4 separate regions of the Homo sapiens genome follow, and all the other regions are linked to region 1. The links come from fine-mapping of genetic effects on gene expression. A gene starts in region 1. Each other region holds a variant in brackets. All regions are shown on one strand. Distances are from middle to middle. Region 1 holds the start of DUSP22 (dual specificity phosphatase 22). Region 2 holds the start of LOC105374870 (a long non-coding RNA gene). Region 3 has its middle 43 kb from the start of DUSP22. Region 4 has its middle 23 kb from the start of DUSP22.

Evidence for each region. PIP is the estimated chance that this variant, and not a neighbour inherited with it, causes the effect.
Region 2: its variant is fine-mapped to the expression of DUSP22 in whole blood (TOPMed, PIP above 0.99).
Region 3: its variant is fine-mapped to the expression of DUSP22 in whole blood (TOPMed, PIP above 0.99).
Region 4: its variant is fine-mapped to the expression of DUSP22 in whole blood (INTERVAL, PIP 0.95).

What each region holds. Positions count from the first base shown.
Region 1 is chr6:288,376-295,831 of GRCh38, reverse strand. It overlaps DUSP22 (dual specificity phosphatase 22), which reads right to left and starts at 3,345. Exons shown (of 7, transcript NM_001286555.3): 1 at 3,272-3,345. The coding sequence starts at 3,292. RefSeq lists silencers at 2,053-2,112, 2,123-2,182, 2,062-2,218, 2,963-3,982 and enhancers at 2,613-2,872, 3,165-3,665, 3,666-4,166, 4,093-4,382.
Region 2 is chr6:223,108-230,999 of GRCh38, reverse strand. LOC105374870 (a long non-coding RNA gene) reads right to left here and starts at 70. Exons shown (of 3, transcript XR_926357.3): 1 at 2-70. RefSeq lists enhancers at 3,051-3,110, 3,121-3,240, 3,251-3,380, 3,941-4,000, 5,296-5,345 and 1 more. The variant A/G (reference allele first, on the strand shown) is at 3,838.
Region 3 is chr6:245,240-253,131 of GRCh38, reverse strand. No RefSeq gene overlaps it. Among named protein-coding and RNA genes, the nearest start is that of DUSP22, 43 kb to the left of the region's middle. RefSeq lists an enhancer at 939-1,008. The variant G/A (reference allele first, on the strand shown) is at 3,421.
Region 4 is chr6:265,852-273,743 of GRCh38, reverse strand. No RefSeq gene overlaps it. Among named protein-coding and RNA genes, the nearest start is that of DUSP22, 23 kb to the left of the region's middle. The variant A/G (reference allele first, on the strand shown) is at 4,589.

The sequences.
Region 1 (7,456 bases):
TGTTGTTGTTGGGTTTTTTTTTTTTTTTTTTTGAAACAGGGTCTCGCTCTGTCGCTCAGGCTGGAGTGCGGTGGCACAATCACGACTCGCTCCAGCCTAGACTTCCCGGGCTGAGGTGATTCTCCCACCTCAGCCTCCCAAGTAGCTGGGACTACAGGCACAAGCCACCACACACTCGGCTGATTGCTTTGTTTTTGTGGGTTTTTTTTTTGTATTTTTGGTAGAAACAGGGTTTTGCCATGTTGCCCAGGCTGGTTCTAAACTCCTGGACTCAAGCAGTCCACCTGCCTCAATCTCCCAAAGTGCTGTGATTACAGGCACGAGCCACCACGCCCAGTCCTGTCTTTATTTCCTCATCTTTAATTTTCTAGAATATAAAAGCCTTTTTCCCCTCCATCTTCTGTATAATCTGCTGCGTACACCTAACGGAAACGGGCACAATATTCCGCCGTACAGGAGCCCGGAACGGACCGACAAGAAGAGCCACCACAGGGATGTGAATGATAAAAACTGCTGTCCCAAAGCACTCAGAATGCAGCGTGCACTGTTTAGACCAGAAATGCTCTTTTGCCAAAAATGACCAATGTGTACGAGATTGGAAAGAAATCTTGTCCCAGTAACCTCAGGGCACACACATTCCAAGTTATGTTAGTTCCAAAGACATTGCACATATTTATAAATGTTCTTAGAAAAGGATTTCTAGGGGTAGCACCTTCCGCTGATTCTGCAAATCAACCATTCTTCTTTTTTTACAGATGAAGCCTCGTTCCAAGTCACACAGTAATATATGGAAAAGTTCTAGTTAAGGTTCTTAAGTTACTGGCCTCCTGCGATCTACTTTGCCACTAATGAACCTTGTGATTTGGGGTAGTTCCTCCTGATCTCACGTTAAACATGTTTACTGCAGCAGGATTCCTTGCCTGGGCTGAATGCCCCTTCTAGGTCACTTTCATCCCATCTTCTGCTTTCCCCACTTTTCTGAAATTGCCTATTTTATCCTCTGGAGCCTCTACTCCTCCCTACCTTGTGTTTGTTCTCTCTCTCACCCCCACACACATACACACCCTGTGTTGTGCAACACAGCAGCCATTAGCCACAGTGACTATCGAGTACTCCAAATGTGGCTAGTCCAAAATGAGATGTGATTTAGGCATAAAATACACACTAGACTTTGAAGGTTAAGTGATCTGGGGGTCCCGAGATTTTTCCTTTCACAAAGACATAGTAAAAAACATGGAATCTTCCATGAATAACTTTATATATTGGTTACATGTTGAAACAATAGTTTTAATATATTGTTAAATAAAATATATTATTAAAATTAATTTCACCGGTTTATTTTTTAATGTGGCTACCGGAACATTTTAAGTTACATATATAGCTCGCATCATATTAGTGCTGGACAATGCTGACCTGTACTGAAGGTTCTGTGAAGAATCTTTGGGTCATTTACCACTGTACTCCCTTTGCCCCCTCCCCACCCACTAGCACAACACCTGGCTCATAGTATGTACATAATCAATAAGTGTTGAAGCAGGGAAGTCTCTAAATCTCTCTATACATGTATTTCTTCATTGATACACTGTGAGTCTCTATTCACAAGATAATAAAAGTCAAGAAATTTATTACCCATTTTGAAAGGTAAAAAGTATATGAATATTACTGCTTTTGTTGAAAAGCATGAAAATAACGTTGATCCCTTAGGCAACCATCTGTATTCCTAAATATATTTTTTGAATTGTATTACACAAATACTATAAATTAAATGCTGAAAACGGTGGAGAGTGAACAGCTCAAGTGGGAAAACTAGAAACAGCCAAAGGAAAGCTGAGATACCACCACCAATGGGAAGGCAAACGGAGCCCACAGACTTATGATGACCATCTTTATTGTTCTGTTTTAATTTAAAAAGCAGAAGGCTCGTGGTGCTGATGGATTCCAGTGCTCATCGGAATATAATACAAGTATTTATCCAAGAGAGAGACAGTCTGTTTCCAAACTTGATCACTCGCCAAAAAAAAAAAAAAAAAAAAAGTGAATACAATTCTCTTTACCAAAATACCCCAGTATTGATATGCAGGTCCCAAACACACAATAGTTCTTTCACAAACTGGGTAACCAGGACACAATAAACACGACATGCGCACGTGAAAAGTTAGCTAGGTTTTCCCTGCCCTACCGTGAATCCGCATTTGCAACACTCCAGCCCCAACACCCAAACCACTGCTGACCCAGTGCTGAGGGACATGAAAAAAAACACAGCCACATTGCCATCCCCACCCAGTGTGGAAGCTGACGGCATGTAGAGATGTGGGTGGGTGGAGCGCAATGAAAAAGTGAAGCAGAAAGACGACTCATCTAATCCAGGACCATTCAAAGACCCGTAAAAAGGTACTTGTCTTTGTTGCGGGCTTTGTAAAGTCTTGTCAATCCTTCCTCGAAACCAGCCAAGTACCAAGTAACAAAATCCTTAACCCTGTGGTTCACATGAATACACCCCGGCAACTCTCAGCTGCCAGAGCTGGAATCTGGCAACTTCCCTGGACGGGAAAGGCTAGCCCACCGCCCGGGAAGTGAGGTGCGGGCAACAAAAGAACACAGGGTGGGGCCCAGAAACGGACGGGACAAATGGAGCAACACAGATTTTCCAGAAGGCCTCATCAGCGCAAGCAGCCAGCAACAGGTTGCCCTTGTTGCAGAAGTCACATAACCTAATCAACTCTGAATCTTTTCTCTCCTCCCCACTATCTAGAAACAGCTCAGGACTTAGGACTCTGTTAACTTCTCTGTCCACAAGAAAAACTTCTCTGTGCTCACAGGCACACACACAGAATCTGAGGAGAAAGAGGAAATTACAGAGGACACCCGTTTACTAATGATGTGGGGGGGGCGGTGGTGGCTTCAAGAGCGTAGTTTGGGAGCGAAGAGGAGGGCAAAAAAGAAGCCACATCCATTCGGAGCTCAGCTGACCTCTCGGCAGAACAAGTGTCAACGCTTTCAAAGGGCGCGGCTTGTTTCAGCCACGAAAACGCACCGGCTGGCAAGGCAGGCGGCTGGGGGCTGCCTACCCGGAAGCCGGGTGGGGTGGGGGCGGGAACACCTCCGAACCCCGACTCCGCGGTCGCCGCCCAGGCGCGCCGCCCCTCCCTCCGCGCCCGTCCCCACCGCGGGAAAGGGCACCCCGGGCTCGAGTCGTCGGGCAGCCGACGCCGGCGAGACGGCAGGGCGTCGGAGCGGAGGCAAACCCAGCGCGAACGAGGGAAGACGTTACCTTGTTCATCCCATTCCCCATGGTGGCTGAAGGCGAACGCTAGCGCCCCGGCCGTGTGGTCGCAGGCGCACTATGGCATGTTACAGGGAGGAGGAGCGGCGGGGCGGGCGGGGAGGAGGCGCGCGGGAGGGACTGAGTGCTCGCAGTGTCAACAAGTCAGCGGCAGGGACCGGCCGGGCAACCCAGGGCGCTCCAGAGACCCGGCGTGGAGGGCAGGGCTTTCTGTGCGGCGGCCTAGAACTTCCCGGCGGGAGCCGGGCAGGGGCACCGGAGCCTATGCCGGGAAATGGTCCCGCCTTGCCGGTCCCCGCCCCCGTGCGCACCGGGCAGGCCCAGCGTCCCTCCTCGCTCCGCCCGCCCGCACCCTGGGATTCGTAGTCGGGTTCCTGGCTGCCGCGCCCCACTCCGCCCTCGCGGACCCCGGCTCGCGGCCGCCGGGCGTGGGAGGCACTAGGCTCGGGCTCCCAGGCGGCCGGCCCCGGAGGCCAGAGCGCGTGCGCGGCCCGAGCCGCCCCGCCGGGACACCCGAGGCTGCGCGGCGGGGCCTGGCGGACGCGCAGGCGCTGCCCTGACCGGGCGGCTGCGCTCGTCTCGGAGCCCGCTCCCCGGCCGGGGGTCTCCAGATCCCCCTTTGGCCTTTTCCCCTGGGGCGACTCCGGGGGCCAGTTACCAGCAGTCGCTACCCAGCCTTGGCTGCCTCCGTGAATCAGGTGCTAATCAGAGGCCTGGTCTCTGGGGGCTCCCCTGCCTGGGTTTTCTGAGTGCGGCAGATTTAGGCTGGGGGATTTCCTGCGGCCCTGCCCCATGCACCAAGACCGAGAAGCCTCGCCTGGTGGGGAGAGGTGGGCTACGTGACTCACCCCGGGGAGGCCCGACCTCCCTACCCTGGGGGAGCAGATGGCTGGATCTCTGACCTCAGACCTCACGGCCTTAGATGATGTGTGTCCCTTAATGTCTGCATTGTGGTTCTGTCTGGAATGGATCAATTTCTAAACTGTAGCAGAATTGTTTTGGGTGTTCTATCAACGTTATTAAACTCTGAAGTTTCTCTCCAGCGACAGAATCCTTGAGCCAGTGGTTTTTCTTCTTAATTTATGTATCCTCAACAATGTCCTGAACATAGTAGGTGCTTAATAAATATTTGCTGAATGAGTACATGCGTCAATCTGACGTGCCCTGGCTCACCCCTGCTGACTTCATTTTATCTTCTTGCTAAGCGAGTTACACACATGCTGGTCTCCTGTCTGTTCCTTGAGCCTGTCAGGCTTGCTGGGCTGTGCTCTCTATCCAGACACCTGGATCCCCAGCTCTCTGCATACCTGCCTGTTATCGCTGAGGTATCAGCCCAAATGCCATCTCTCCTAAGAGGCTTTTCCTAACCACCCAATTCCAGGTTGGTCCTCCAGTCACTATCATATTACTCCGTATTATTGATCGGAAATACATGTATTTGCTTTCTTTTTATCTGTCTCACTAGCCAGCAACTTTCAGATTAAAAAAAAAAAAAAAGTTGTCTTATTCAGTAATACAGCCATGTGGCCTGGGACAAAATCTAGCACAAAATAGTGATTTTTAAAATATTTGTCAAATAAATTAATAATTTCTTGTGGCCGAGAAAACGGGTGAGGTTCTGAGGAATGTGAACGTTTGGAAAGAGCTTGTAGACTCCATCTGTCGCCATTTCTGTACTTGTACCCCATATCTTCTGGGCAACAAATGGTATCAAAACCCCCCGTGTAGAAAGCCCTCAATCAATATGCGCTTGCATGTTTTCTCTAGGTAGAATGGGACCCAGACCCGGAGTGCCCTTTCTGCCTCTTGTTTTGGGAGAGTGTTCCTTCTTCACTGCCTTCACTTCCTCTTCTCCCGCCTGCTTCTCAGTCACCTGGACAGCCTGCCCTTTCCCCTCTGCCACACACTGCCATTAAGTAACTGTTTTTACCACCTTCCTGCTTAGAGACAACACAGAATCGTTAGTGGACTGCCTGGGGAATCCCAGTAATCAGCCTCTATTTCTAATTCTTAAGGAGGTCTTGAGCAAGATGATCAACTTTTCTGAGCTAGCTTTTTTTTTCTCTTTAAAACAAGAGCATTAAACTGTGAATTTTTGAAGCTTCTATCCAGCAACCAATGAATTACTTCTGCAGCCTTCTGCCCTCCTTGGGCCATTCATCCAACAGTCAGATGAACGTTTAAGAACACAACCAGTTCATAAACTGGTACTTGACCATGAATGACAAATTCATACTGATTTTTTTCTTCTGTCATCCACTTGCAATATTTCTCTCTTATTCATACTCTTCTTGTAGATATATTTCTCCAGCTTGGACCATCTGCTTTTCCCCCTAAACTCAGAACCTGCCATGGCTTCCTCCTTACCGTCAAAATCAGCATTCAGTATGGCCTAAAAGGTCCACATGCCCAGAGTTCCTATCAAAATCTCAAATTTTTCTTTTGGGTTAAATAGGAAAAGAGGAGACTATTAACACCAGAAGTCAGAAGAGTAAGATTTAAAAAAAAAAAAATTATTGGTTTTGGCTGGGCGTGGTGGCTCAAGCCTGTAATCCCAGCACTTTGGGAGGCCGAGGCGGGCCGATCACCTAAGGTCAGGAGTTCTCGACCAGCCTGGCCAACATGGCAAAATCCCGTCTCTACTGAAAATACAAACATTAGCCGGGCGTGGTGGCGTGTGCCTGTAATCCCAGCTACCCGGGAGGCTGAGGCAGGAGAATCGCTGGAACCCAGGAGGCAGAGGCTGCAGTGAGCCAAGATTGTGCCACTGCACTTCTGCCTGGGCAACAGAGCAAGACTCCGTCTCAAAAAAAAAAAAATTATTGATTCTGTGGGGTTGGGGGGTTTCCCACAAGAGACTTGCTGTACTCTCCTCCACCCTAACCCTGAACACCTCTCTTTATTACAATAATAATTCCCAGTTGTTCATGTCTTGCAGTTCTATGACTTTTACTCTCTAGCTCTTGATTATGGAAAGAAAGGAAGAAGGGAAACACTTCAACAAAGCTGGCGTATTTCACATCCATAGTAGAATCTCTATTCATTTGTGCTTTATCTCACTCATAAAAATTTTAAGGCATCACAAGCCTGGTGGATTTTCACACTATGTAAGATTTTTACTTCCACTTTTCTTCTTGTTATTTTCTTCCTCTCAGTTCTGCCAACATCACAAATTTTGGCAACAACTCCGAAAGAAGTCAAGCCTTCATGTGTGCACAATAAGGAATGGTCTACAGAGTGTGTAGGATAGCTGAGTCCATACTTACACATGGTTAAGGATAACTGGTTAATAGTGTATTTAGTGAGCAGTAACCTTAAACTTTAAGGTGGCGGTGTTTAAAAGCCCGCAAGCAGAAGCTCAACCATTAGAGTTAGCCAAATCATTATAGGTGTTAGTGATAATTTCAGAGCATCAAGATTAACCTCTATCCAACAGAGAAGTAATTATGTAATCTTCACTGGCCTCTTGAACATATTGCAGTCCAGGGTTTCTCAACCTCGGCAAAACTGACATTTGAGGCTGGATACATTTTTGCTCTAGAAGGCTGTCCTGTGCACTGCAGAATGTTCAGAAGCATCTCTGACTTGTGCTCATTACATTTCAGTAGCACCCTCTCAGTCATGACAATCAGAAATGTCTCCAACCCCCTCTCCTCAATAACCAGCTAAATCTACACTAATAGATCATGTTAGTTCTCTGCAGAATTCTTAAGCCACAATTGTTCATTATTAACAAATTGAGAACAAGAAGTTAAAATGAAGATCTAATCTAGCCAAAGCCTGACTAAAAGTAAAAGAAAGTGAGAATCTAATGAATTGTGGAAAGAAGAAAAAAGGTGGAACCTGGAACTACGGAAGCAAAAGCACAAAACATTTTCTCTGTTTCTCCAGCATTGTCCAGAGAGAGGCTGCCCAGTTGAATACCTGAGTTCTCAAGGCCATGCAGAACAGCCTGACCATGAGGATGGGCCCCTGTGGTATACGACCTCAACTCTTCAAAGGTCACAATTTCCAGCCTTCCAAGCAGTCTTCTAATTATGAACGTGGTTTCCTCCTTTCGCTGAAGAGATTTGCGGGGCTCAGATCTCAGCACGGATATCTGGAGAGTGTGGGGTCAGGGAAGAGCAGCAAGAGGAATGGATATCCAGGTAAATGACTGGGAGGGCAGAGAAT
Region 2 (7,892 bases), 65 kb after region 1:
CCGATGTCACGATGACACGATAATGCCGCTGGACTTTGTCGGCCTTGGTAAACGGCACTGAGGACCCGAGTTCCTCTTGCAACTGCCAAGCGTTTCACGGGAACGTCATCTGGGGAGTCAACGGCTTCAGGATTAGCAACCACCATCTTTCAAAAGCGGTGTCATATGTTAAAAGGAGCTGGAATCATGAGGGCTAAAAAAAGATGAGTGATTGAAAAAATAGTCATGATGAAAGAGGCCAGGAATGCCAGAAGTAATAACATTTATTACCAAATTTCACAAAAAGCCTAACCTTTTACATATAAAATACAGAAAACCAAAAGAGAAACAATATACTTAGGAAAGTTTTGCAAGGCAGGTGACCAACCATAGGTGTCTTTGCTTATTGTAAAGAGAGCTTTGTCATATCAGTAAAGAAAAGGGGAAATATTCTATTGAAAAATAGAGACTCTCAAAAGCCAGTTCTTGACCATCAAACATGAGACAGATTTCTCAGTTACACTCCTGATTAAGGAAATGGAAAGCAAAATACTAGTGCTGTATAACTGGCTATTTACATAGCATTGGCAATAAATGAAGCTTAATAAAACCCAGCATTGGTGAGGTTTACCAGTCTCCTGCACCACTGGTGAGAGGCTGAGTTGGACAACAATTTTGGCGGGCAATAGGTAATTCCTGTGAAAATACACTTATCCTTTTTCAGGCAACTCACTCTACAGATATTTGTTTTTAAGTACATATAAAAATAGATACATAGAGATACATAGATATCTTTCTACATATCTCTATCTATCTATCTGTCTGTCTGTCTGTCTGTCTGTCTATCTATCTATCTATCTATCTATCAACATTAATTGCATCATTAACAAGGCCAAAAAAATGAGGGGTGGGTGGGGGGCTGAGCCCTCGTATCAACAAATAGAAGAGACTGGATCGAGGTTTTGCAGCTATTAAATAGAATAAAGTGATATGAACTAAATATGCAGGTGGAAGGTTCTGCAAGTCATGTTATTAAATGAAAAAGCGTGATTCAATATCATATACATACATGCAAACATATAGACATGTGTGCACATATGTATGTATATATTTTTCTGTATTTGTATATATTACATATGTATATTTATAGTTTTATTTGGGCATCACATTGAAGGATTTGCTTTACCTCTGGATACTGGAAATAGGTTAAGGGGACAGGGTTTGAAGTGAATGAAGTTTGTCTGGATTTCCTTCTAAATCTGCACGAAGCACAAAGACTGACGTGTCAGCTTGAGGCTCCAAGGGGACAGAGTTTGAAGTGAATGAAGTTTGTCTGAAGTTCCTTCTAAATCTACACGAAGCACAAGGACTGACATGTCAGCTCGAGGCTCCAAGGGGACAGAGTTTGAAGTGAATGAAGTTTGTCTGAAGTTCCTTCTAAATGTGCACGAAGCACAAGGACTGACGTGTCAGCTCGAGGCTCCAGGGTTTGCTGCTTGGGAAGGTGGGTCCTGCTGGGCTGTGGGAAGTCCACAGGTTTCAGTTCACATGATTCGAAGCACACATTACTATAAGGGTCAGCTCTTATAGGATACCAGTTCGGGGAGTTTCAATTTGACTTAGGAGAGGGTCTAAATCTGAAGAACAAAGCCAAATAACACACACCCAGGTGAGTTTCATTGTCAAAACCATTGAAACTGGCTGAGACCCACACACCCCCACCCACTGCCTGGCTGAGCCCGGCTCCACTTTTAGACATTGCGGGGAGGGGTGCAATCCCGCCACTTAGTCCTGCCCTCCCGCCAGCCCAGGCATAGTGGAAGGAAGGCGGTCAATCTGGGCTTTCTAGAACGATGCTGAGACTCCCTGACTCTGCCGAGCACTTGTGTAATGACTGCACGCGTTGAGGACTGAGAGAAGTTACTCCTTTGACAAAATTGCATTTCCAGGAGTACATTATTTAACTTTGTTCTGGCCCCTGTCAATCTCCAAAGAAAGTACTTCTCTTCATTCTAGAAAGATGAGGAACATTTTTCCCAAGAGCAAATGAAGGCTTAGACAAAGCATGTGGTATAAGTCACTTCTGGGTGGAAAATGGATTGCCTTTGTTTTATATTGACCTATCAAATGATAAAAAAAAAACACACACACACACACACCAAAAAACCAATGTTTTTTTTTTTTTAATATAAAATTTGCTTGCTTCAAAAAGATTGAAAACTGCCAGTCGCGGTGGCTCACGCTTGTAATCCCAGCACTTTGGGAGGCCGAGGAGAGTGGATCACCTGAGGTCAGGAGTTGGAGACCAGCCTGACCAATGTAGTGAAACCCCATCTCTACTCAAAATGCAAAAATTAGCCAGGCGTGGTGGTGGGCGCCTGTAGTCCCAGCTACTCAGGAGGCTGAGACAGGAGAATTGCTTGAACCCAGGAGGCGGAGGTTGCAGTGAGCCAAGATTGTGCCACTGCACTCCAGAGCAAGACCCTGTCTCAAAAAAACAAAAAGTTTTGAAAACTACTAAGCTACTACAGCATATAATGAAGTCATGATAAATGAACATGAATCTGACATAGGGTTTAGTTGTAAAGTACATTCCATCTTAAAAAGTACCTACACGCTAGGACCTGGTGTTCCTGCCTGATTTAAATCTTTCTTTCTTGTTTCCTTTGCTCCTCATTCCCACCATTGCCTGTTTCTTCCTTCCCTCCCTCCCTCCTCGTGCTCTGATGCCTCTCTGTTGTTTTAGAACACATTCTACAACCTCGCAGTGTCAAAGGCTCACCAGCCATTCCCACCACCATCCTGCGGGGCAGCCTGATTATGTTCAGGGAACAATACAGTCGCTCTGAGGAATGGCCCAAACAGAGGCACCCACACACTCCCCTTGCCAGGGGAGAATGCCAGGAGAGACCCTGTCATCCAGTAGGATGTCTGCTGGGGCTGCCCAGAAATATTTCCCCCCCATAAGGGAGAGAGGTGCAAGAGCAGAAAGTCCTTCTCTTGCGAACCTGGAACCCCGTTGTGAAAACACATGGTGCTTTCCCAGGCAGCTGCCGCCTATGTCCATGTTAAACAGTGACTGCTCGGTAGACAGCCCAACTCTCTAGGGATGACAGAACAGAAATAACCTGGTTCTCAGTGGCCTGAGTGGCCGAAATACCTTGGGACCAGCTATCTCTGGACTTAAGTAAACTAGAAATGTCCTTGTGCTTTAAGCCAGGTTTTTGTTACTTGTAAGCAAAATATCACTTTAATCGAATGGAGAAAAGGACTGTATTGAGAAGAAAAGTTACAATTATGTCATGATAATTATGATTACAGAAGCCTGTCGAATGCTGTTTACACCAAAGATCGAATGACAGCCATGCTCCAGGGAGCTGGTGAGAATTTCCCTGAGGAGGACAGCGAGCACCGGCCTTGCAGAAAAAGCCCCACGTTAGGCAACGAGGGATGAGGCCAGTGGATGGCAGGCTTCGCATGAAATGCTAAGGAGCTGTGGTTTTTGTCTCTAGAGAACAGAGGCATGTGCCTGTGTGAGCAAGACCGCTCACACTCACGACACCCACACTCCTCCTGTGTGATGAGGACTCATGCTGGCCTTTGTCTCCATCTTCTGGGAGAGGCTCTCTAAAGCCTTACAATTTCCCAAGTGATGGGAGTGTCTCTGCTATTCATGGTGGGCCCTGATAATTTATGCTAACAGGTCACTCACGGTGGGGGCCTGCGTGGTTTCAGGACGGGTGACGGTCTTACAGGAAAGACCCACGTGTCACCAGAGGATCAGGGCTCTGAGCCTGACCTCTAGGGAAGGGAGGTGGCTGGAGATGAAGTTCAACCATCAGGCCAGTGATTCAATCA[A/G]TCACGAGTATGTCATGAAACCCAAGTGGAAGCTCTGGCCCCAAAGCTTGGTGGAGCTTCCAGGTGGTGAACGCATGGATGTAGTGGGAGGGTGACCGGTCTTGAGCACATGGAAGCTCTGCCTTCCAGGCCCTCCTGGACTGTGTCCTGCTGTCTCTTCCTTTGGCTGGTCCTGAGCTGTGTCCTTTGTAATAACACTGTCATCATACATGTAGCACTTTCCGGAGTTCTGAGAGTCATTCTGGTGAATTATTGACTCTGAAGGGGTCAGGGGAACCCCTGACTTGGTCAGAAGTGCAGGTGGCCTGGGGACCCTGGAGTTTGCAGCTGGCATCTGAAGTGAGAGCATTCTTGCTGGGGATGGTGCCCTTCACCTAAAACTTTTGGCCCCAACTCAGGGCCTCAGTGTCAGAAGTCCCTGCCCTCACCTTCCATGAAAAGTCTGCATGGCCCAGGCCAGAGCTTCGGAGGCCCTGGGTCTCCAGACCCAGGAAATGGAGGGGCTTCGCTTCACCCCCAGTCCACAGACTAACTACTCTGTGAAGAATGCTAACCTTTGGTCACAAGGGAGCTGAGGATTGGGGGTGATGAGATCTGAGAAAATGGGGAGAGCTAAATCATCCTGAGTGCGGCGGCTCATTGATACTGTTGTGGTGCCTTACACAGCCAGACTGCAAATGTTCTGGCCTAAATCCACTCTTTCAGAGTAAATAGTAACACAGGCAAATAGAATCATAGCTACCATCGACTGAACTATAATGGGAAAGATGCCAAGTGAGATTTATTTTTGTTTTGCTTTTTACCTAGTGTTCCTAATGTCCTTTTCTACCAGTGACGCGCAGCTTGGTAAAGGCCTGAGTCTGGCATCTCGCTGTGAAGCGGCCCCAGGTGTCCCCAGCTCTGTCTGTTGGCTCTGCCCCACAAGCTCGCGCCCGAAGCCACAGAGACACAGGGTGGGTGGGGGTGGAAAAGTGACGCCCAGGAATCGCTGGGGCTTTGCAATGTGGATGGTAGGAGGGTGGGTTGCGCCATGTGCTCCCCCCGCCTCCCTCACCAGGTTGGTCTGTTGCGAGGCACTTTCCCCAGTTGGCTCTGTCCAGGCCCCAGGCCGCCAGCATGGTGGGGAGCCCCTCTCTCGGCCTTGCCGTGGCTGCAGTGTGGACACACGTGCGTATTCAATCACTCTCTGCTGCCCCTAGACTCTGATAAGAAGCTGGGCGTTCAGGGTGAAGGCGTGGAATGATGAGCAGCACACAGACGGCATTTTGCTGAGCATCAGCAGGCGCTCCTCCGTCGGTTGCTTTTGCATAATAAATGTGGGGAAGATTTTTCAACCCCGTTTTCCTATGAGAAAGCTGAGCTCAAAGGCTGAGCTGCTTTGCTGAGGTCACTCAGAAACTCAGAAACTCACAAAGCAGGGGTGAGACCTCTGCTCGACAGCAAAGGCAGGCAGCGTCCCTCATCCCTGCACCACGAGGGCGTCACAGCCCCTTCCCGGGTGGCCACAGCCACAGGGCACCCTGCGCCCTCTCCGGGCCTCGCCTTCCTCTTCTGAAACAGGACGGTGATCTCATCCCCCTCACAGGCTGATGCAGAGACCTAAGGAGCACACTGGCTGTACACGGAGGAAAGCACCTCGGTTTCCTGAAGCAGTGTGGCATTCGAGTCTGATTTCCAGCAACTCCACTGCCCCCGCAGCCAGACTTTGCATGAGCAGAGTTCGCAAACCTTCTAGAATCTGGCGAGGAACAGAGGAAATCAGCTAAAGGGCGTAACAGGAAGTGGGGCCTGGACCGGGAACCTGGTTCCTCCGCTCTTTCCCTATAGGTACAGAAGGAACAGGCCCAGGAATGAGTAAGAATGTTTTTCTCTACAAATAACTCACACCCAAGCCTCAAGCAGGGTTAGGGAGTGAGGCATTGTGTCATCACCTACCACAGGAAGCCCAGAGCCAGGGCAGACTCCAGACACGGCACGCAGGGTTGTGACTCTACACACCTGGCGCCTGGGGCACTGGTGTCTTCCAGGCAGCTCTGCCAGGTGTCACATCTGGACAAGACAGAGAGGTACTATCTTCCCCTTAGGAGTGATGAACTCCTTTCCAGAAGCTTCCTGCAGGCTTCTCCTCATGCCTCACGTCTAGAATAGAGTGATCTGCATGTTCCAAGAACAGTCACTGGTTGGAGAGTTGGTATCACCGTGACTGGGTGAGCCTGATGGCTCTAAACTCTGGCTGTACATCAGAAGCACACACTGAGCTTCTGAAAAGGAGAGGCCTGGGCCCCACTTCCAGAGATTCAGTTCAATGGATCTCCTGTAGTACCTGAGCATCAGAACTTCGTAGCCCCCGAAGGTGCATGCTACGGCCAGAAAGAAACTCAGGGAAAAATGGATGTTGCAGAGACGTCGCCACAAATGAAACCCACAGCGACAGGAGAAAGCGGCTCGCGTCCCGTTGAAGAAGATGCTTCCCTGGATTACTGTGCAGAGTTGAAGCTTTACCTTTCACCTGGAGAACGCGTGGTTCTGTGACCAAAACAGTGGCAGCTCCTCCACCAGCCCCTGCTGCTCCCATCCCTTCCAGGGAAGAAACTTTTGTTTCTGTGATGCCAGCGCAGGCATTCAGAGCAAAGCCACTTCCAGGAAATTCTAAGAATGAGGTGCGGGCACCACTGGGCTGGCGCATGAGAGTCATGTGCCTCAGACTCCACGCCCCCTGCTGACCGTGCCCACAGGCTCCCAGGTTATCTGTGGCGGAGGTCAGGGTCTGCTGGGCAGGGTCAGGGATGTCTGGTTGGGCTGAAGCAGATGCAGGGGTCCTGCGGTCACCACTGCCTCCGATGAAGCTCTGAATGGTCTTCTCTGTTCTTCCATACGGTCATGTGCCACACAACAACATTTCCAACCACAGACAGCGTATACTATGGTTGTCCTGTAAGAGTATAAGGGAGCTGAAAAATTCCTATCATGTGATGACATTGTAGCCACCTCAACGTCTTAGCACAATTATATATATATACACACACACATATATATACTTTATATGTAGAGAGAGAGAGTGTGGCCTACGTGTGCAGTGTTTATAAAGTCTGCAGTAGTCATAGTGATGTCCTAGGTCTTCACATTCACTCCCGACTCACCCACTGACTCACAAGAGCAGCTGCCAGTCCTGCAAGCTCCACTCATGGTAAGTGCCTTGCACAGGTACTGTTGTTCATCTTTCGTATTGTTCTTTCACGGCACCTTTTCTCTGTTTAGATACACACACGCCACTGTGTCATAATTGCCGACAGCACTCAGCGCAGTGACATGCAGGTCTCAGCCTGGCACGACAGGCTGTCTCATATCGCCAGGTGTAAAGCAGCTCATAGCACGCGGGTGTGTGGAAGTTCACTCTGCGATGCTCACACAACAGCAAATTGCCTGAGGACCCATTTCTCAGAAGGTATCCTTGTCCTTAAGCAACACATGACTGACATTTGTAAAAGGGGCAAGAGACAGCTTGTGCTTCTCAGAAAAGGTGCCCATTTTCAACTGGTTTAGGAAATTTAGAAAGAGGGAGGAGGAGTATTAAAGTGGCTAAGAGTGTTTCTTTCCAGTTGGTTGATTCTGCACCTCACACACCTAAGGAGTCTGGGAAACATCCTGGGTAGCAGTGGTGGAGAGTGGTCGTAATTTACATTGAAATGGGGATCACCACTGCATATACAGATGGCCTTGCTAGGTGCTGAGGAAGCTCTGATGCCCCCGCGAGGATCAAACATGAGTCGTGGAGACAGGACATGGTGACATGTAGGAGAACACAGTTGAATGCCAGGTAAGCCCCACGTGGGCCTCATGGGTTCAGAGGCTTTTTTCAGAATTACTTCCAGTAGAACGGTTGCCCGTCACAGGGAGCATATCCAAGAGGGCGTGTGTGTGAAGCTGGAAAAGTGGCTTGTACTGGGAATGGGGTGTCTCATATCTCTATAGAGAGACCGCAGGGAGCTGAGGACTGAAGGAGAGGTTAGAGCAGCTCAGGCTCAAGCCCTCTTCCCCAGAATCACCAGGAACTT
Region 3 (7,892 bases), 43 kb after region 1:
GGTCTGTTTAATATCTGTGTTAAGCTGTCATACATGCATGTCAGCTGTAATTTATAGAATAATAGAAACAATAATGCCTGGCTTACCATTCTAGAATAAGACACTCTACGCTGACCTTGGGTTTCCTGTGTATGGCTTACAAGATCAGACTGACATGCTAAAATTTGTTTTCGTTTCAGTTATGAAATAATTAAGGACAGGCTTTTTCAGGTCCTTCAGTGTTGTTTAAATGAATGAGAAGGTATGTTTCTTTGACTTTCTGAAACAGGGTTTAAGAAGCATGCAAAACTTAGAAGGAAAACAAGAACAAACTGACTAAGGAAGCATTTTGAATGAGTTCGGGTGCAGTGAAATCCTTCGGTGGGCAACTATTAGATCATTTCTGTGCAATCAAATCTTCTAGACTGAATAAAGATAAGCCAGCTTCATCTTAGAGAAAAAGAAACTTTTTGATATATGAGATAATCACAATGCAGAGGTAGATGAGGGAGAGTTTAAGGGGACGGTTTGCAGAAAAGGCTGTCGAATCCCTAAAAATAACAAGGCACTGCCACAGTCATTGGAAAACTCAAATCCTGAGGTGAGGTAATACTAGGAAAATGCTAAGTTCACTAAAATAGTTTTTTCCGCTGCAGTTTAAACACAAGTTTAGAGAGTATTTTTGTTGCTGATGGTGGTTGGTTTTGTTTTTTAAAGTATATTAAAGAAAAAATAATTCATCTCCTTCTAATAACAACAAAATTGAGACCTCTGTTGCAAGGATGAAATGATGGATTATCTCCTCTCTTTATCAAATCATCACTCTGGAATTAATATAAGAATCATAATCTTATTTACCTAGCTCTGTGTGAAAGTGGTCATCTATCAATATATGTGACATTTCATTCAGTAAGAAAGGAAAGAAACTTGCAACCAACTTTCAGGGAAGAAATAACATTTCCTCTGAACAATTCTAAGGAGGAAGGCAAAGTAGAGTTTCATGTTCTCAATTCTGCTGAAGATATGAATCATCACACCTTTGCTAGCAGTTACATGTCATAAGGGCTTTGAGATGCCAAGTGAGTCAAGCCCATTTGTGACATTTGATAGGCCTACTTTTTATCCATGTGGCACTACAGAATGGATTCAAATCTCACTAGAACAATCTTTCTCTTTCTCTCGCTCAGTCTTTTTCTTCTGTGTTTTTCTAGAGTCGAGAAGTTTTAAAGAGGAGGGGCTAGGAGACCAAACATATCAAAAGAAGCCATGGGGGAGCAAAATCCAAAGGAATCTGTCGCATGTAAAGAGATAATATTTTTGCTTTCTTGTTTTTCCTATAGTTGCTGTCAAGGAGATGAGCCCAAGTAATAAGGAGGATAGGTAGATGACAGGGATGGGGAGAAACTTCAAATTAACATTTTTATTTTAACATGTGTATACCAGACACAAACTATTGAAGCCGAGAGAGGGGTAAATAAGAAATACGAATAGACATGTAGCAGGTAAGGAGATTGAATTGGTAATTAAAAACTTCCTACCAAAAAGCTCAGACTCACATGGCTTCATTGGTGAATTCTATCAAATGCAGAATTAGCAACAATCTCTCATAAACTTTTTTTTTTTTCCTTAGACGGAGTTTCGCTCTTGTTGCCCAGGCTGGAGTGCAGTGGTGTGATCTCGGCTCACTGCAACCTCCACCTCCCGGGTTCAAGCAATTCTCCTGCCTCAGCCTCCTGAGTAGCTGGGATTACAGGCATGTGCCACCACACCTGGCTAATTTTGTATTTTTAGTAGAGATGGGGTTTCTCCATGTTGGTCAGGCTGGTCTCGAACTCTCAACCTCAAGCGATCCGCCTGCCTCAGCCTCCCAAAGTGCTGGGATTACAAGCATGAGCCACCACGCCCGGACCCTCTCATAAACTCTTAAAAAGAGAAGAGGAGGAAACACTTTTCACCTTATTCTATGTCGCCAGTATTACCCTGATACCAAAACCAGTCAAAGATATCATAAGAAAAGTACAAACCAATATCCCTTATACATATCAATACAAACATCCTCAACAAAACACAAACTGAATCCAATGAGATTCATCCAAAGAAGATAAGGATGCTTTAACTTTGAAAAATCAGTCAATGTAATGCACTGTATTAATAGCATGACAACAAAACCACATAGTCATCTGAAGAGATGGGAAAAAAAGCATTTTACAAAATTTAACAATCTTTCATAATACAAACACACAAAAACTAAGAATAGAAGGGAACTTCCTCCACCTGATCAAGGGAATCTACAAACAAACCACACCTAACATTACACATGTGGTAAAAGACAGAATGTTTTTGCCCTAAGGAAGTCCACTCTCACCACTTCTATTCAACATTGCAATGGAGGATCAAGCCAGGACAATTAGACAAGAAAGAAAAGTGAAAGACATCAGATGGGAAAGAAAGAAGTAAAACTATCTCTGTTTGTAGATGACATGATCTAATATTAAAAATTCTAAGCATGCCACAAAATAAACTATTAGGCATATAAAATTAGTTCATTAAGGTTGCTGGGTAGCAGATCAATATACAAAAGTCGGTTGGTTCTATACACTAGCAATGAACAATTTGAAAATAAAAGTAAGAAAATAGTTCCATTTATAATAGTATCAAAAAGAATAAAATATTTTAAGGATAGATTTTTCCAAAAAATTCAAGACTTCTACACTGAAAACTATAGTACAAAACATCATTGGAAGAATTACAGAGGATCTAAATTAATGGAAGACATCTCATGAACATAGATTGGAATACTCAATACTTATTGTTAAGACGGCAGTACTCCCCAAATTGATCTACAGATTCAATATAATCCCTATCATTATCCCAGCTGGCTTTTTTTTTTCGGCAGAAACTGACAAGCTTATTATACAATTCATACGGAAAGGCAAGGCACCAAGAATAACCAGAACAATCTTGAAAAATTAAAACAAAGTTGAAAGACTCACACGTCCTGATTTTAAAGCTTACTACAAAGTGACAGTAAGCAAGACAGTGTGGTACTAGCCGGACATGTAGATCAATGGAAGAGAATTTAGAGTCCAGAAATAAATCCTTATGTTTGTGGCCAATCAATTTTGACAAATAGAGCTACCCTAGAATCCAGCAATCCCACTGCTGGGTATATACCCAAAAGAAAGAAAATCACTATACTGAAGAGATGTCTGCATGCCCATGTTTATTGCAGCACTATTCACAATAGCCAAGATCTGGAAGCAACCTAAGTATCCATCAATAGATGAATGGATAAAGGATATGTGGTACATATACACAATAAAGTACTATTCAGCCATAGAAAAGAATTAGATGCTGTAATATGCATGGGACTGGAGGTCATCATGTTAAGTGAGACAAGCCAGGCACTGACTGACAAACTTTGCATGTTCTCACTCACTT[G/A]TGAAAGCTAAAAATTAAAACAGTTGAATTCATGGAGATACAGAGGGGAAGAATGGTTCCCAGAAGGTAGTAAGGGCTGGGGTGGGGAGGACAGAAGGATGGTTAAAGTGTACACAAATATAGTTAGAATGGGTGGGTGCGGTGGCTCATGCCTGTAATCCCAGCACTTTTGGAGGCCGAGGCAGGTGGATCACTTGAGGTCAGGAGTTCGAAACCAGCCTGACCAATATGCTGAAACCCTGTCTCTTCTAAAAATACAAAAATAAGCCGGGCATGGTGGCGTGCATCTGTAGTCCCAGCTACTTGGGAGGCTGAGGCAAGAGAATCACTTGAACCCAGGAGGCGGAGGTTGCAGTGAGCTAAGATCATGCCACTGCACTCCAGCCTGGGTGACAGAGCGAGACTCCATCTACAAAAAAAAAAAAAAAGAAATATATATATTTCTTTTCTATTTATACATATGTATATATATGAATTAGAATATATGTATATATTCTAATATATATATTAGAATGAATAAGATCTAGTATTTGATATCACAACAGGGTGACTACAGTCAACAATAATTTATTGTACATTTTAAAATACCTAACAGATTATAATTGGATTGTTTGTAACACAAAGCTATGACAAATGCTTTAGGAGATGGATACCCCGTTTACCCTGATGTGATTGTTATACATTATATGCCTGTATCAAAATGTTTCATGTACTGCATAAATACATACACCTACTATGTACCCACAAAATTAAAAATTAAAATATTTTTAAAAATTAGGAAATTATTAGACTCATAGATATAATTTTAAATTAGAAATTAGAAAATCAAGCACGGGTGGTTTTATGAGTAGGTCCAGTATTACCCTCCTCTCTCTAGATCTTTTTAACAAATGGTGCTGGGAAAACTGAATATCAACATGCAAAAGAATAAAGTTGGACTCCTTTCTTACATACACAAAAATTAAATCCATATGAGTCATAAACCTTAATGTGAGAGCTAAAACTATACACTCTTAGAAGAAGTACTAAAGGTAAATTTTAATATCCTTGAGTTAGGTAAAGTCTTCCTAGATAAAACAACAAAGCAAAAGTGGCAAATGAAAAAAAAAGATTGATTGGACTTGATCAAAATTAAAAACTTTTGTTCTGCAAAAGACACCATCAGGTTAAAAAAAAAAACCCCACAAAATGGGAAAAATATTTGCAAATCAAATATATTCAGAATAGAAGGGTAACTTGCTTCTAGAATAAGTACAGAACATCTACAACTCAATAATAAAAAGAAAAATAAGCTATTTTTTAAAAAAATGCACAAAGGATCTGAACAGACATTTCTCTAAGAAAGATATATAAATGGCCAACAAGAATATGAAAAGATGCCCAAAAATTATCCACCATTAGGGAAGTGAAAATCAAAACCACAATGAGATATCACTTCACACCCATGAGGATGGCTATAATTAGACAAATAATAGTAAGTATTGGCCAGGCGCTGTGGCTCCCGCCTGTAATCCTAGCACTTTGGGAGGCCAAGGCAGGCAGATTACGAGGTCAGGAGTTCGAGACCAGCCTGACCAACATGGTGAAACCTCATCTCCACTAAAATACAAAAATTAGCCGGGCGTGGTGGTGCTTGCCTGTAATCCCAGCTACTCAGGAGGCTGAAGCAGGAGAATCGCTTGAACCCGGGAGGCGGAGTTTGCAGTGAGCTGAGATCACGCCATTGCACTCCAAATAGAGTGAGACTCCATCTCAAAAAAAATAGTAAGTATTGGCAAGGACACGAAAAATTGGAACCCTCTTAGTTTACCATGGGAATGTAAAATGGTGCAGCCACTTTGGAAAACAGTGTGTCAGTTACCCACAATATTAAACAGAGTTCTTATATTACCTAAAAATTCTACTCCTGGGTGTATACCCCAGAAATCAAAACATATGTCTACGTAACATTTGTACATAAATGTTCATAGTAGCAGCATTTTTTGTAATAGCCAAAGAGTAGAAACAACCCAAATGTCTATCAACTGATGAGTGACTAAACAGAATGTGGTCTATCCATACAAGAGACTATTAGCCACAAAAGCAAATGAAGTTCTTATCCATGGCACGGCGCTAATGACCCCCAAAGACCTTGAAAATGTGAAGTGAAAGAAGCCAGGCGCAAAAGACCACATGCTGTATCAGACCATGGATGCGAAATGTCTGAAAAAGGGAAATCCACAGAGCCAGAAACTAAATTAGTGATTGCCAGGGGCTGGGAGGAAGAGAAAATAGGGAGTGACTGCTCATAGGTGTGGGATATATTTTTTTTGAAGGTGATAAAAATGTTCTAAATTACGTAGTCATGATGGTTACACAACTCTTCAAAAGTATTAAAAAACGCTAAATTTCACACTTTAAAAGAGTGATTTTATGGTATGAATTATACCTCTATAAAGCTATTATGCAAAAAAGTGTGTATTATTTCTCTTTTGTCTCTCCCTCACCCTGTTCCATATATATATATATGTAATTTTTTTTCTGTATTTCTCTATGTCTCCACAACAGTCACTCCATTAAGAAGCATGTTTTACTTACTACTAATGATTAGAGAAAATTCAAGTTCTTCTGTACACAATAGTAAACTTCACCAACTACAACCCAAGCCAAGACATGGTAATTCCTTCTCTTCCCTTTCTCTGGAGACAGATTTTACAGGCTGACATATTGACATATTTCTTTCTTTTTTCTTTTTTTTTTTTTTTTTGTTGAGACGGAGTCTCTCTCTGTCACCCAGGCTGGAGTGCAGTGGTGTGATCTCGGTTCACTGCAACCTCCACCTTCCAGGTTCAAGGGATTCTTCTGCCTCAGCCTCCTGAGTAACTGGGACTACAGGCGCCCACCACCACACCCCGCTAATTTTTGTATTTTTAGTAGAAATGGGGTTTCACCATATTGACCAGACAGGCTGACATATTTCTAAGGGCTGGTGCCTGTGCTGGAAGGTCACATACATTGCAGAGGAGAAGGTGAGAACGTGAAGGTGGCTCAACACAAGTCTTTCCCATAATTAGGAAACCGAGCATGAGTGGCTCCACGAGTGCGTCTAGTGTCACCCTCCTCTGGTGCGTGTGAGTCATTAGCATCATGTCGGCACCTTCACCATGATGGACATGGGAGAGTGTAGGTTTGTGAGTCAGGCGGATGTGTTCTGCAAAATGTGGAGAACCAAACTCAGAATCGCTGGATTCCTGCCAAATGGAATCTCAGCCACATTTTGTGTTTGCTGCTCTCTTAGTTTGGTAGAAAGAGGCCAATCAGGAAAAAAAGGTTATATCAGGAAATATTTTTCTTCAAAACTGAAAGAAGCAAAACAAAAGGAAAATAGATAATTTTAAGCTTCAACTCAACCCAATCTCCTATCCATTCTGGATCCTCAGGAAAAAACAGATTGAGAACCTGTAAAATCCTTCAGAATCCAAGAAAAATTTACTAAAGTAATGTCCACTAAAGGGATGAGTACGTCTTAGAGCAAGTGAGACTGTAGGTTTCCTAATTCCTGGCCTCATAAGTTTCCCACAATATAGCACAGACTCCTCTCCTCATTTCACATAAACTTCCAGAAATTAGAGTTTAAAGGAACAGAAACACGTACACCAAGAAGCATGATTTTCTGCTTACACCTAAATTAGCCCAGAACTTTCACTCATGATGTAGTTTTACTCTGTATGAATGCGTGCGTTGTGTATCTCTACATACACATCCATATGAGTGTTATAATTGCATACATATCTATTAGGTCAAACCATGGGGATTTGCTCATATTGAACACTTTAACCTGTAGAACAGCAATTTCATATGGTTCAACCTAACATGCCTACACAACTGTAAAATTTATATAAGGGGAGTAGATACATTTGATGACTTCAAACCATTACCAAGACTGGGTTTCCAGACTGCTCATAATGAAGGTAATCACTTTATGACATCTATCTTATTTGATGTCCTTTCTTTTTTGCAGAGAATCTGGGCCCATCATGAGCCTGTGATTTGCAGACCTTGTTTCAGGGTTTGCTTCATGTCAGAAGGTGATGCGGCTTTATGAAGGAGGGAAGAGTGAACTCAAGAGTAGTGATGAAATGTGTTAAAGGGTGATTGGCAGACTCTTATGCAAATATAAAATGAACACATGTCAAAGATGTTATTTCACTCATTAATTAAATGTTACAGTGGGTTCAATAGAGAATTCTGAGAACCATACATTTATATACAAGGAATAAGGAATTATAAAATGAATTTACAAATAGCCATAAAACTGCTCTTCCATAGGGCAATGGCCAATTGCATCCCAATGGGGACACAATTAATTTGCATTTATATGAACAAGAGCAATTCACATTATTATCCATTTTCTACAACTTATAGAGTTTTAAAAGAATAGTGAGGATAACGTCAGTGGGTGAGATGTACAGATATAGATGTACAGTTGATCC
Region 4 (7,892 bases), 22 kb after region 1:
ACATACCTACAGAGGGATGTCAAGGAAGATGGCCAAGTAGGAAGCTCCAAGAATTGTTCTCTCTGCCTAGTCAACAGTGGTATTGCCAGAACCTGACTGATGTAATGAGTTTTGGAACTCTGGAGTCTATTTGAAGATGTCTAGCTTCCAGAAAGAGGCTTGGCTGAGATTTAAGGATTAGGACATTCAAAAGAAATTGCTTATATGAGGAAATTTGGAAAGTCAGTATGCATGTCTAGGGAAAGATACAGACTCAGAAAAGACCTGAGGTAACCTTAAGTTTACATCTCAGGCTGATCCCCAGTATAGAATATATATATATTTTACATATATATGTAAAATAAAATAGTCTTGACAATTCAGAATAATGAATCATCCCATTGAAAATACTTGAAATATCCTCTTTAAATGTTCTTCATATTTGTTGAATAGTAAAAATAATTATTATTATGATAATAGAATGTATTAAGCACATATATATTTTACATATATGTTCTAAATATATATATATGTATATATATATCAGTAAAGACAGAAAACAGAAATTCTGGAGTTGAAAAGTACAATAACAAATATAAAATTCACTTTGGTGAAGTTTTGAAACTCTTTAGTTTCAAAAGCAGATTTGAGCAGGCAGAAGAAAGAATCAGCAGACTTGAAGATGGGACAATGGAAATTACTGAGTCAGAGAAACAGAAAAAGACTGAAGAAAAGTGAACAGAGTCCAGGGGACCCATGGGACACTGTCAAGGAGACAAACATATTCATTGTGTCAGTTCAAGAAGAAGAAAAGAGAAAGAAAGTGATTTAAATACATAGTGGCTATAAATGTAAAAAATGCTAAAGGAAGATTTTCAGGTTGAAATGAAAGGATGCTAGAAAGAAACTCAAAGCCATATGACGAAATAAAGATAGCCAATAGAGGATTTACATGGGTAATTATAGAAGTTAATATAATTGTAATTTTGTGTTGTAACTCCCCTTTTATTTTCTATGAGTTAAAAGACAAATACATAGAGAAACAATGATTAGTCATTGTTTTTGATCATGTATAATTTATGACATCAACAATTAAAAGGTACAGACAGAGCTGTAAGCTTGTGTAAGTTCAAATTAGACTGTTATAAATGGAGGTGTTAAATGTAATTCCCATGGAAACCACAAAGAAAATAGCTATAACATATATACCAAAAGAAATGAGAAAGCAATTAAAATGTTTCACTACAAAAACTCAAACAAAGTAAGACAGTAATGTGAAAGATGAAAACAAAAGGCAAAATGGAAAACAAATAGCAAAATGGCAGAAATAAGTTTCTCCTTACTAGTGAATATTTTAAGTATAAATGAATTAAATTATCAAACGAAAAGACAGAGATTGATGAATAAATTTTTAAAAATAATTCAACTATGTGCTGTCTACAAGAGACTCATTTTAGATCCAAAGACACAAAAAGGTTGAAAGTAAAAGGATGACAGAAGATATTTCATGCAAATAGTAACCAAAAGAGAGCTGGGGAAGGGATAGAAATATTATACAAAATAGAGTTAAGTTTAAAAAAAAGTTGAAAAGAGACAAGGAATGATATTAGATAGTAATAAAAGTTTTAATATAGCAAGGTGATATAACAGTCATAAACATTTACACACCTAATAACAGACCCACGAAATACATGAAGCAAAAATGGACAGAAGTGAAGAAAGAAGTGGACTGTTCTACAATGATAGTTGCAGACTTCCATAATCAATAGAACAAGCAGACAGAAAATAAGCAAGGAAATAGAGGACTAGAAGAACACAATAAACCAACTACATCCAACAGACATGTATAAAACGTCCCACCCCACAAAAACAGAATACATATTCTTCTCAAATGCAGATGGGACATTCTCTAGGATCGAACATATGTTATGCTACAAAACTAGTGTCTATACATTTTTAAAAGATTGATATTATTTTTATAAAAGTGTCTTCTCCGAATATAGCAAGTTGAAGTTAGAAATCAATTAACAAAAAGAGAAAACTGAAAAATTCACTATATATGATAATTAAACAACATTTTCTTATGCAATCAATGGATCAAAGAAGATATCACAAGGGAAATTAGAAGTTACTTATAAATAAGTGAAAATTAAAACAATATACCCAAATTTATAGGATGCAGTGAAAACACTGCTAAGAGGGAAATTTAAAGCTGTAAATGCTTACATTAAAAAAGAAGAAAGATCTCAAATCAACAACCTAAATTTATACTTTAAGGAACTTGAAAAAGAAGAACAAACTAACCCCAAAGCTGCAGAAGGAAGGAAATCATAAAGATTAGAGCAGAGATAAATGAAATAGAGAATAGAAAAACAATAGAGAAACTCAGTGAAGCCAAAAGTTGGTTCTTCAAAAAGATCAACAAAATTGAGAAACTTTAGCAAGATTGACTAAGAAAAAAAGAGAGACGACTCAGATTACTAAAATCAGAAATGAAAGTGGAGACATTACTACCAATTTTTCATAAATATGAAGGAATATAAGAGAGTACCATGAATAATTGTACACCAATAAATTAGCTAACCTAGACAAAATGGCCAAAATTCTAGAGACACAAAATCTACCAAGACTGAGTCATAAAGAAATAAAACAATTTCTGGGAGGCCGAGGTGGGCGGATCACCTCAGGTCAGGAGTTCAAGACCAGCCTGGCCAATATGGTGAACCCTTGTCTCTACTAAAAATACAAAAATTAGCCAGGCGTGGTGGCACATGCCTGTAATCCCAGCTACTCAGGAGGCTGAAGCAGGAAAATTGCTTGACCCTGGGAGGCGGAGGTTGCAGTGAGCCGAGATCGTGCCACTGCACTCCAGCCTGAGCAACAGAGCAAGACTCTGTCTCAAAAAAAAAAAAAAAAAGAAAGAAAGAAAACATTTTAGTAGATCTATAACTTGTGAGAAGATTGAATCAATAATAAAAAAGTTAAATAAATAAATAAATAAATAAATAACTTCCAATCAAAGAAAAGCCCAGGACCAGATGGCTTTACTGATACATTCTACCAAATATTAAAAGGAGAAAAAAATACCAATCCTTTCCTGACTCTTCAAAAAATTCAGGAGCAAGAAACACTTCCTAAGTTATTCAGAGGACAGCATTGCTCTGATACCAAAACCAGGGAAGAATGTGACAAAAAACTATAGATGAATATCCATTATAAATATTGAGGTAAAAATCATCAAGAAAATACTACCAAACCAAATTCAGCAGCATATTACAAGGATCATATACAGTGAGCAAATGGACTTTTGTCCTGCAATGCAAAGATGCTTCAACATATGGCAATCAATCATGTAATACACGACATTAACAGAATGAAGGAAATAGAGAATAGAAGTAAGTTCTCTTCTTCTTCATCAATAATTTCCATTGATGCAGAAAAAGCATTTGACAAAATTTAACTCTTAACTCTTTTTCATGGATAAACAACACCTCTAATTACCATCTCAATTCAGACTAGGGCCTCAACAAATACATTTGGGGAGGACACAACACTTAGTCCATAGCATAGCCACAGAACTTAGGCAAGAAAAAAGAAATAAAAAGCATTTAATTTGGAGAGGAATAGGTAAAATCTTTCTGTTTGTAGATGACATGATCTTATATAAAACCTGAAAGATTATACACACACACACACACACACACAACTAATATAAAAATTCAGTAAAGTTGCAGAATGCAAAATCAACCACAAAATTATTTGCTTTTCTGTACACTTACAATGAACAATTCAAAATTAATATTTAAAAAATTCCATTTATAATAGCGCTTAAAAGAATAAAATCTTTAGGAATTAACCAAGGAGGTGAAAGATGTGTACACCAAAAACTAGAAAACTTTGTTGAAAAGAAATTAGGGATAAATAAATGGAAAGACATCCCATATTTACGGATTGTGACTTAATATTGTTAAGATATCAATACTACCCCCAAGTGATAATCCACAGATTGAATGATATCTCTATCAAAATCCTAACATTGTTTTATGTTGACAAATAGAAAACTCCTACAATTCATACAGAACTTAAGGGACCCTGAATAGTCAACGAAAATCTTAAAAAAAGAAATATCAAGTTGGAGCATTCACACTTCGTGATTTCAAAACTTACTACAAAGCTACGGGTAATCAATACAATGTGGTAGTGACATAAAAACCGACATATAGACCCATGGATTATAATAGAAGGCCCAGAAACAAACCCTCACACATATGGATGTATGATTTTTGTCATGGATGCCAAAAGCATTCAAGGGGAAAATAAATATTTTCAACAAATGGTGTTGGGAACCTGAACATCCATATTTAAAAAAAATGAAGTTGCACCCTTACCTAACACCATGTGCAAAAATTAACTCTAAATGAATCAAAGACCTAAACATAAAAGCTGAAACTATAAAATTCAGAAAACATAGGGGAAGGATTTCATGACATTGGATTTGGTAAATATTTCTTAGATATGACACCAAAATCATGGGCAACAAAAGAAAAAAATAGACAAATTGTACTTTATCAAAATTAAAAAATTTTTGCCCAGAAAACACTATAACCAC[A/G]GTTAAAAGGGCAACCCATTTAATGAGAGAAAATATTTGCATATCTAATGGGGTTTAATACCCAGACTATATAAAGAACAATAACAAAAATCACACAACCCAATTTTAAAATGAGCAAAGGACTTGAACAGACATTTCTCCAAAGAAGATATGCAGATGGCTGATAAGCACATAAAAAGATGCTCAACATCACTAATTATTAGAGAATTTCACGTGAAAACCACAAAGAAGCACTACTTCCCACTCATTATGATGGCTATTATAAAAAATATAAAAGCAATAGAAAACAAAAACAAGTGTTGACAAGGATGCAGAGAAATGGAATTCTTGTGCATTGCCGGTGGGAATATAAAATGATGCAGCCGCTGTGAGAAACAGCATGGCAGTTCCTCAAAAAAATTACACATAACATTACCACATGATCCAGAAATTCTACTTCTGCAGAGATACACAAAAGAATTGGAAGCAACGACACAAACAGATATTTTTATAACCATGTTCATAGCAGTATTACTCAAAATTAGTCAAGAATAAGAATAACCCAAAGGCACATTGATGAATAAATGGGGAAACAAAATGTGGCATTCTCTACTCTTTAGAAGCAAGTCATCCAGCAAAGCCCCACATGCATGAGCTGGCAGAGGCGGGGAGGGAGGACTAAGCGCATCTCCTGGGGAGCAAGGTATTACATAAATTATTTGTAATCCTTCCATGTGAAAGATTTGTCTGTTCTTGTCTATTTACATATTTATTTGTTTTCTTTTATTATTATTATACTTTAAGTTTTAGGGTACATGTGCACAATGTGCAGGTTAGTTACATATGTATACATGTGCCATGCTGGTGTGCTGCACTCATTAACTCGTCATTTAGCATTAGGTATATCTCCTAATGCTATCCCTTTCCCCTTCCCCCACCCCACAACAGTCCCCAGAGTGTGATGTTCCCCTTCCTGTGTCCATGTGTTCTCATTGTTCAATTCCCATCTATGAGTGAGAACATGCGGTGTTTGGTTTTTTGTCCTTGCGATAGTTTACTGAGAATGATGATTTCCAATTTCATCCATGTCCCTACAAAGGACATGAACTCATCATTTTTTATGGCTGCATAGTATTCCATGGTGTATATGTGCCACATTTTCTTAATCCAGTCTATCGTTGTTGGACATTTGGGTTGGTTCCAAGTCTTTGCTATTGTGAGTAGTGCCGCAATAAACATACGTGTGCATGTGTCTTTATAGCAGCATGATTTATAGTCCTTTGGGTATATACCCAGTAATGTGATGGCTGGGTCAAATGGTATTTCTAGTTCTAGATCCCTGAGGAATTGTGCATATTTATTTGTTTATGCAGTTTATGTTAGTATGGACTCACGATGTTTATTTTACACTTTGGGTTATAATTCAATAGTATGTTCTCTATTTTCTTGTTCACATGGTTTCAGCTTTGGCTGTCGGGAGCTCTTCCAAGTTGGCTCCTGTGTCACTTGTTCACATCCCAATTGCTTTATTTCTTTTCTTGCTGGCACTGCAAGACACTCCGGGTCTATCTTGTATTTTCCCTGTCAGTCCCATAGTCAGCGATTTCTCCAAGGAACCCTGGCTCCTTTTGTTGAAGAATGATTAGAAATTAAGACCTTGGCACTGGGTATGCCCATTGCCACTGGGGGCTCACTGACTCAAGGCCCTCTCAATGGGCAGACCTAGGATGTAAATTGTATACTAACTCATGGACACACACGGCTATAATTATTCTGTATCTGTCCATCTATATTAAGCTAACCTGAGTTCATACTTATGTCTCCAACTCTAATACGGTACCACCAGTACCACAGAGTTCATTCTAGCCTTCCCAAGGAGTGATATTTTGAAATTTTTTCCCCAGAAATATCAGTTTATGAATGCAGTTTTACATTTAATTCCAGAGAGCCCTAAAACATAGCACCATGGGCAACACCCTCCAGTGGCTCCCCCATTGCATATAGACTCAGTACCAACTCTTTTTTTTTTTTTTTTTGAGACAGGATCTCACTCTGCTGCCCAGGCTGGAGTACAATGACGCAGTCTCCAGGCACTGCAGCCTCTGTCTCCTGGGTTCAAGCAATTCTCCTGCCTCAGCCACCCAAGTAGATGGGATTACAGGCATGTGCCATCATGTGTAGCTAATTTTTTTTGGTATTCTTAGTAGAGACGGGCTTTCACCATGTTGCCCAGGCTGGTCTGGAACTCCTAAGGTCAAGTGATCCATCCACCTGGGCCTCCCAAAGTGCTGGGATTACTGGTGTGAGCCACTGTGCCCAGCTGACTCCATACCAACTCTTGAGTAGTTTGTATTTTCTGGAGTTTATATAAATGGAATAATGTACTTTGTTCACTCTTTTTGTCTGCCTGCTTTTACTCAGCATAGTTATTTTGAGATTTATTCATATTGCTGCATGTATTAATACTTAATTCATTTTTATGGTTGAGCAGTGTGAATACTCCTTTGTATGTGTTTGAATATACTACAATTTATTTATCCATGCAGTTGTTAATGGACATTTAAGTAGTTTCTAATTTATGGTGATTACACATAAAGTTGCCATATATATTTATGTACATATTTTATGCTTTTGTTTCTCTAGGTAAATAACTAGAAGTTCAATGCCTGGATCATGTAGCAGGTTTGTATTTGACTATGTTTAGCTTATATTCCCTCCACCAATTAAGGAGGGTTCCAGCTATTCTACATCCTCACCAATACTTGGCTTGGTCATCATCTGTAATTTGAGATATCTTAATTAGTATCAAGTGATGTCTTATTCCCTAATGACATATAATGTTGCATATCTTTTTCTGTGCTTATTTGCCATTCATATGATTGTCTTTGTTCAAATGTCTGTAAAAACTTACCATTTTTAATGGTTGTTTGCTTTCTTACACTTGGACTTTAAGAGTTCTCTATATATATAGCCGATAAAAGTTATTTATCAGGTATGTGATTTATAAATATTTTCTTCTAGATGGGTAGCACATCATAATAGGAATAGAAAACAGTCAGAGATACAACTCTGTCAGAGATACAATGGTTGATCTTGGGGTGGTATCACAGCAGATTACAATAGGGCTGCATTCCTCATTCATAAAAAAAAAAAAAAGCAAACCTAATGGCACCTAAAAGGTTTTCAAGGCAGTGGCCCACTGAAAGCTGTAAAAAGATACAATCATTGAAATGAAGTGCAGATAGAGTCCAGGTTATAGCAAGCCCATTTCCTAACCTGGAACAGAAGGTTAGAATGGAATAAGCAGGAATATTGACTTGTTGAC